Regions from separate parts of the Homo sapiens genome. Here region 2 is linked to region 1. Evidence: fine-mapped expression QTL. Tissue or cell type: sun-exposed skin. Region 1 holds a variant in brackets; the other region holds the start of a gene. All regions are shown on one strand. Distances are between the middles of the regions.

What was found. PIP is the estimated chance that this variant, and not a neighbour inherited with it, causes the effect.
Region 2: it holds the start of ADCYAP1R1, and the variant in region 1 is fine-mapped to the expression of ADCYAP1R1 in sun-exposed skin (GTEx, PIP 0.93).

Annotation. Positions count from the first base shown.
Region 1 is chr7:31,016,328-31,019,227 of GRCh38, forward strand. The region is part of intron 2 of LOC105375222 (a long non-coding RNA gene); the gene reads left to right. Among named protein-coding and RNA genes, the nearest start is that of ADCYAP1R1, 35 kb to the right of the region's middle. The variant A/G (reference allele first, on the strand shown) is at 1,625.
Region 2 is chr7:31,050,908-31,053,807 of GRCh38, forward strand. It overlaps ADCYAP1R1 (ADCYAP receptor type I), which reads left to right and starts at 1,401. Exons shown (of 16, transcript NM_001118.5): 1 at 1,401-1,771.

The DNA of each region.
Region 1 (2,900 bases):
CCAGGTAGAGGCAGCTCCTTGACCTGCCCCCATTGGCTGGGCCTTGGCCACCTGCTGGGGCTCAGCACCCCCCCCCCCCCGCCACCTGCCTCTGCTCCTGACCTCCATGCCCACCACCTATCCTTCCTCCTCACCCTTCCTTCCTTCATTCCACAACCTGAATTGGAAGCCTGGGGTCCGATGTGAAGGCGAAGTCCCACTGAGGTGCAGTCTGGTGGGACATCATCATGCCATGCTCTCCACCACTGTTCATCCAATTCTCTCCTTGTTCAGGAGGCTGAGGCCCAGGGAGGAGACACTGTGCTGAGGGAGCTGAGGGCAGAGCTAGGCCTAGACGCCACTTCTCTCCACTCACAGGTCCAAATATGGGCCCTAAGGCTCACTATCTGCCCTTTCCCATCACCTCAGTCCCGCTGTTCCTCCCCCAACACTCCTCCCCGCTCCTGCTGCCCAACCACTGCTTTTCAGAAGCTGTCCCACCCTAGGGGAATGGGATGGAGGGCAAGATGTTGGTGATGACTGTCCTTCAGCTCACATGGTGAGCATTCAGGCAGTGGCCCATGCTGGTGGTTTGTCCCCTGAAGGGACTGGTGTGGGCAGGGGCTGGGGTTGGGCAGAGAGTCAGACTCACTCCCTTCTTCATCTTGTGCGATCTCAGAGAAGTAGAAAATGCTCCCAGATGTTCAGCCTGGCTCCTCAAGACTTAAATGCCACTGTCACAGGCCCGCTCCTCATGCCACTTGAAGCCTTATCAGTCACTTATACTTTGGTGTGAATGAAGGAAGGGGGCTAGGGAGTGAAGTGGGAGGATTTAGGGAACCAGAAAGGGAGACGCCTTGTCTGAAGTCACACAGCCTGGGCCAGGCAGAGCGGGGCAGCTTCTGAACCTACATACCTGGGCTACAGCTGCTCCTCTGAGCCTTGCACTGCCCCCTCCCCCGCAGTCCTCTGCTCACCATCCTGAATAGCGCCAGATCAGATGGACACTATTAAGAAGCTCTGGGTCAGCTGTAAGCCACCAGTGAGCATGCAGAAAATGGAGTGCAGCCCAGGAGGGAAAATGGAAAAGTCCCTTTGGAATTGCCCCACCCACTCTGCTTCTGGTTCCTTGCAGATTACCAAATTTCCAGCACTGTGCTTTTTTGGGGGGATATAGGGGAAGGGCCTTGCCCCACTTCCCTCTTAGTGGAGGGTGGAGTTTTGTTGTTTTTGCAGTGTTTTTGGCATCAAAGGTGAACTCTGGTTGTCATGGGAACTCCAGCAGAGGGAGGAAGGGAGAGGGCCTGAGGAGGCTGAATTAATTTCAGTTTCGGCTGGTTCTCCAAGGGGGAATCTGCGGGGGGTAAAGAGTGAGGGTCCCAGGAAAGACCCTCACCCAGGAAGGCCCCTTAGTGCCCCACGTCTCACATGCCCAGCCTGGCTCCAGGAGGCTCCCGCGTCTGCCATGCAGGCGTTCTTCCTTTTGGGAGGAGGCATGGGCTTCCCCTGCTGCCACAGGAGGTTCTGGGTCTAGAGAAGGTTGTCTTAGCATGGGTGAAGAAAGGGGATGAGGGAGCCCCCCAGAGAATGTCAGCAGGCTGGGGACCTGTGCAGACCCTTCAGTCCTGTTGGGGCAGCAGGGAGC[A/G]GCAAGTAGGGCAGGGCCAGGTGGTCTCTGAGTGGCTTGAGAACCCTGACTCAATTGCTAGAAGCCTCAGGCTGGGACATCCAATAAGAGCACAGGACCAGGCAAGTGGTGGGTCGACATGTTGTACTTTCCAAGGAAATAGTCCCCTTTTGCTATCTTTTGTAAAACACACATGTCCTCTCATCCTCCAGTTCAATTTTCTACCTTTGATAGTGACACAGTGATAGAGTAATCAATCTCTACTAAAGCAACAGCTCAGGTCCAGTGGTAGATGCCAGCTGGCGTTAGGGATGGGGAGCAATGGGGATTGGTGAGGAGTGTGGTTAAGGGGAGAGCTTTGGTTCTGGATGAGGGGACTGTTCTACACGCTGCATCTGACTGCTGTCACATGCTGGGTCAATGCTGCCAGATTGTCCAACTGCTCAGACGAAGCCAGAAATACAGATTATGTGGACTTCCCTGATGTGTGCCTTTTTCCTTACTATAGTCCTCATTCCAGCTTCCTCTGCCCACGTAGGCCCAAGCCTTCTCAAGATCATGGATGAGGGAAACCTTGCTGTTACCTTGAACAGTTAAGATAAACCAAGCCCTTAGAAATGGTCTTATTTGTCTCATCCTGCTACAGATAGGGAAACTGGGGCCCAGTGGGGCAGAGACCTCCTTAGCCAAAGGCACTGGATGGGTTAGTAGTAAGCCGCAGCTGGAGGTATCCAGGGCAGATAAACAGAAGGATGACCCAAGAATGCATGTGCTCCTGTGAGTACGTGACAAGCGATGTGTCCCATCAGGGTGAGACGAGACCACAAAGGTGTGGGAATGATGTTAATTTTAGCCCACATTTATTGGGACAGGCACCAGAACAAGCAGAGTTTGGGTCTATTGAAAAGATATTTTATTTTTGTACCACACAGGCCCTTTAAACTGTATTATGGGAGAAATCCTTGCTTGCTTTATGAGCTGAAAACTCAGGTAGGTCCCATGTTTTTTCTGCTCACTCCTGTGTCACAGACAAAATGTTCATTAAAATTCTGAAATTGATTTAATGGCACTTCTTTTCCCCATGCCAGACTCAGGGCTGGAACCTGCAGTGGAAGGGGCAGGGGGTGAGGACATGGCCAGTTTCTTTGTTCTCCTTGGCCTTCTCTCTTCCAGCCGCCCTCCAGTTTATAAGCCAGTTTCTGACCCCTCCTGGGTGTGGGTAGGGCAGGAGGGAGGTGGGAGAGAGGGCTGGTAATGGGAGGCAAAGTCTTGCTGGAACTGGCTTTGCACACTCTCT
Region 2 (2,900 bases), 35 kb after region 1:
TTCTCCTCCACCAGGAAGCTCTCCTGGACTGAAAGGAACATGAACCAATCAGACTACCAGTGTGTTGTGTCAATGGGGGTCAGCGGTCATTGGTCAGTAAAGAGAAACATGGACCTAGGAACCTCCACGCGTCTTTCTGGGCCCTCAGATTGCTTCTTTCAAGTTTCCATATGGATTCCTCTCCATCCACAGGTCCTTTCCTCTTTGGTAGACTGGCGACCCCAAAGGAAGGCTCAAGGCTCTCCCTCCTCCTTCCCCCTTCTTGAGGCCTCCTGGACAAGGTGGCCATACCTAGAACTTGGACCCAAAGGGAAGCTGAGCGAGAATTTACTTGAATGGGCAAGAACAGAGCCTGGCTGCAGAACTGAGAGCTCTCAGAGACTGACGCCTGAGGCAGGGACCAAAAACCGAGAGCAGAGGCAGGCAGGAGCAGCTGTGGGATGGGGGCTGGGTGGGGTGGGCAGAGGGTGAGAACTTGCCTGGGAGTGGGTAACTAACTACTCTCAGTTAAGTTTGGGCTTCGCTGCCAACCCGCTAGGCCACCTTTACCTGTGTAGTTCTCCTTATTAAGCCATTTGCACTAGGAGGAGGTTGGACAGGACTGTAATAACAGTAGCAATAGTAATTTATTCAGCATCGGCGAATCAATGATACCAGGGAGAAACTACTATGGGGTGAGTGTACCATTTTTATTTAATGCTGCTGTGAAGAGACCTGGGGGCCGGTACTATTGTTCCCTTGTGCAGATGAAGAAGCTGAAGCTCAGAGAGGCTGAGCCACTTACCCAAGCTCACAGAGCTGTGGCACAGCAGGGACTGGAGCCAGGCAGTCTGATATTTTAAGTTGCCTCTGTCCTGTAAGCACCACCATCCCCTTCCTGGTCTTTCTCCGGGGGCGGGGGGGTCACATTGGAGGACATCCCGACAGGCACCCCAAAACTAGCTGACCCTCCCAGGCCTGGGCGGTAGGGGCAAAGAAGAGCCCAAGGAGGGTCTGAGACTTGCCTGGTAAGGAAGGCTTCTTGGAGGAGAGGGAAGACAGGCTCTGATACACAGGAAATCTTGAGGACCTAGGGAGAAGAAAGAAGGCTTTCTAGTCCTGGCTATGATGGAGAGACTGGAAAGAGGGTGGTGAGCCCAGGAGGCCCAGAGTCAGAGGAGACGGGGATGACAGGGGGCTGAGGGCTCCACCTCAGCGCCCCCGACCCCCGCCGCTGGGATTTCCCGCCGCAGCTCCTGCTCCAGTCTGTGCTGCGGGTGGGGTCGGGTTGAGCAGCCCGGCGCCCCCCACCGCGCCCCCCACCGCACCGCCCTCGATCTAACCCCGCCCCCGGGCGCTCATTGGCCTGCAGCACCCCCTCCCCAGCCTGTGAAGTGAGCAGGGGGAGGCGGTGGTCGGTCGCCTCCCTCCAGCGCCCAGCCTGGCTTCGCGGCGGAGGCGGCGCCTCTCCCGCAGGACGGAGCCAAGCTGGACTGCCGCGCCGCGCGGGGCGGGCAAAGGGGGCGCTGCGCTCGGCCCCGGGCAGGGAGTGACGGCGGCGGCGGCGGCTCCGGGCGAGCGTGGTCCCCGCGTGCGCACACGCACACGCCGCCGCGCAGGGACACACGGACCCCGGCCGCCAGCCGGCCACACAGGCGCGGAGACCCGGCTCGGCGCGCGCTCCTCGGCGCACACGCTCCCCATCCCCGCGCCGCGCGGGCCGCGGACTTGCAGGCTGCGCGTCCTTTGCGGAGTCTGCCCCGGCCCCACGGACAGGCCCCGCAGTGAGCAGGTAAGGGTCGCCCCGCCGCGGCTGCCCCTCCACGCCTCGGCCGTCTTCTCCCCCTCCAGAACCTTCGCCCAGCCGGGACCTCGGATCCCCTCCTCTGGCTTGGCGGTCTCCGCCAGCCGCGACCTCCACCGACGGAGAGCGGGCGAGGGCCGGCGCCAGGCAAGCCTCCCAGATCTGAAATGAAGCCCCCTCCCGCCGCTGCGCCCTTCCTGCGCGTCAGGCTGACACCCCCCAACCCAAGTGTCTGGCGCTGCGCTCGGGGCGGCCGATCGCCGCAGACTGCCGGGGTGGGGGTCGACCTAGCTATCTCACGCCCCTCCTGATGCGGAGAAGGGAGACCAGGGGGGCAGGCAAGCCATGCGGCCGGAGGGACCCGGAGGGACATGCCTCCCTACCCTTAGGTGGACGGACGCACCTACGCGGATCGGGAAGGCAGGGCTGGAGGGTCCCCCGGGGCTAGGTACCGCAATCCGCACGGGGTTTGAGGGGTGGGCAAGCAATGTGCTAGGTGGGGGTTGGGGTAGGGGCCAGTGTAGAATGCCCCTCTGTGGTGACACATCCGGGATTGTTCAAAAGAGTGTCGTCTTCGTTTCCCGTGGCGCGGAGGGGCTGGGGTTGGGGATGCCAGGGCTTCAGTGGTCCCCAGAAGAAACGCCCTGCGGGGTCTGTGGGGAAACGCACCGGCCTTCCCAGGTTGAAGTGGGCCCGCTGAGACCCCTGCCTGCCGCTTTAGAGGCAGAAGCTCCTGCGGCGGCTGCGGGGGGCGGAGGCCACATCCTCGGCGGGACCTTGGCAGGTTAGGGGGCTCAGAAGGGACAGGGGAGCCGATGGATGCAACTAGACCCTCAGGAGGGAACCCAGCCGGAAGCCGATTGCATTTCACGTGGAGCTGAGGAGGGGAGCCTCACCCCTGGATGGAGCTCAGCCCCTTTTTGGAAGATGGGGGTGGGGTGGTGGACACCTGCTAATTCTTCCGACCATTTTTATGTTTTTGAGTGCAGGTGCGTCAGACTCCCTTTATCTTCCCCAGCCTTACAATGTCCCGCAAAGCCCCCCTGGCCCTCTCCAAGACACAGCATTTGGCTCTTCCCATGAGCGGCCCTGGGGAGGAGTTGGGGGATGGGAAGGG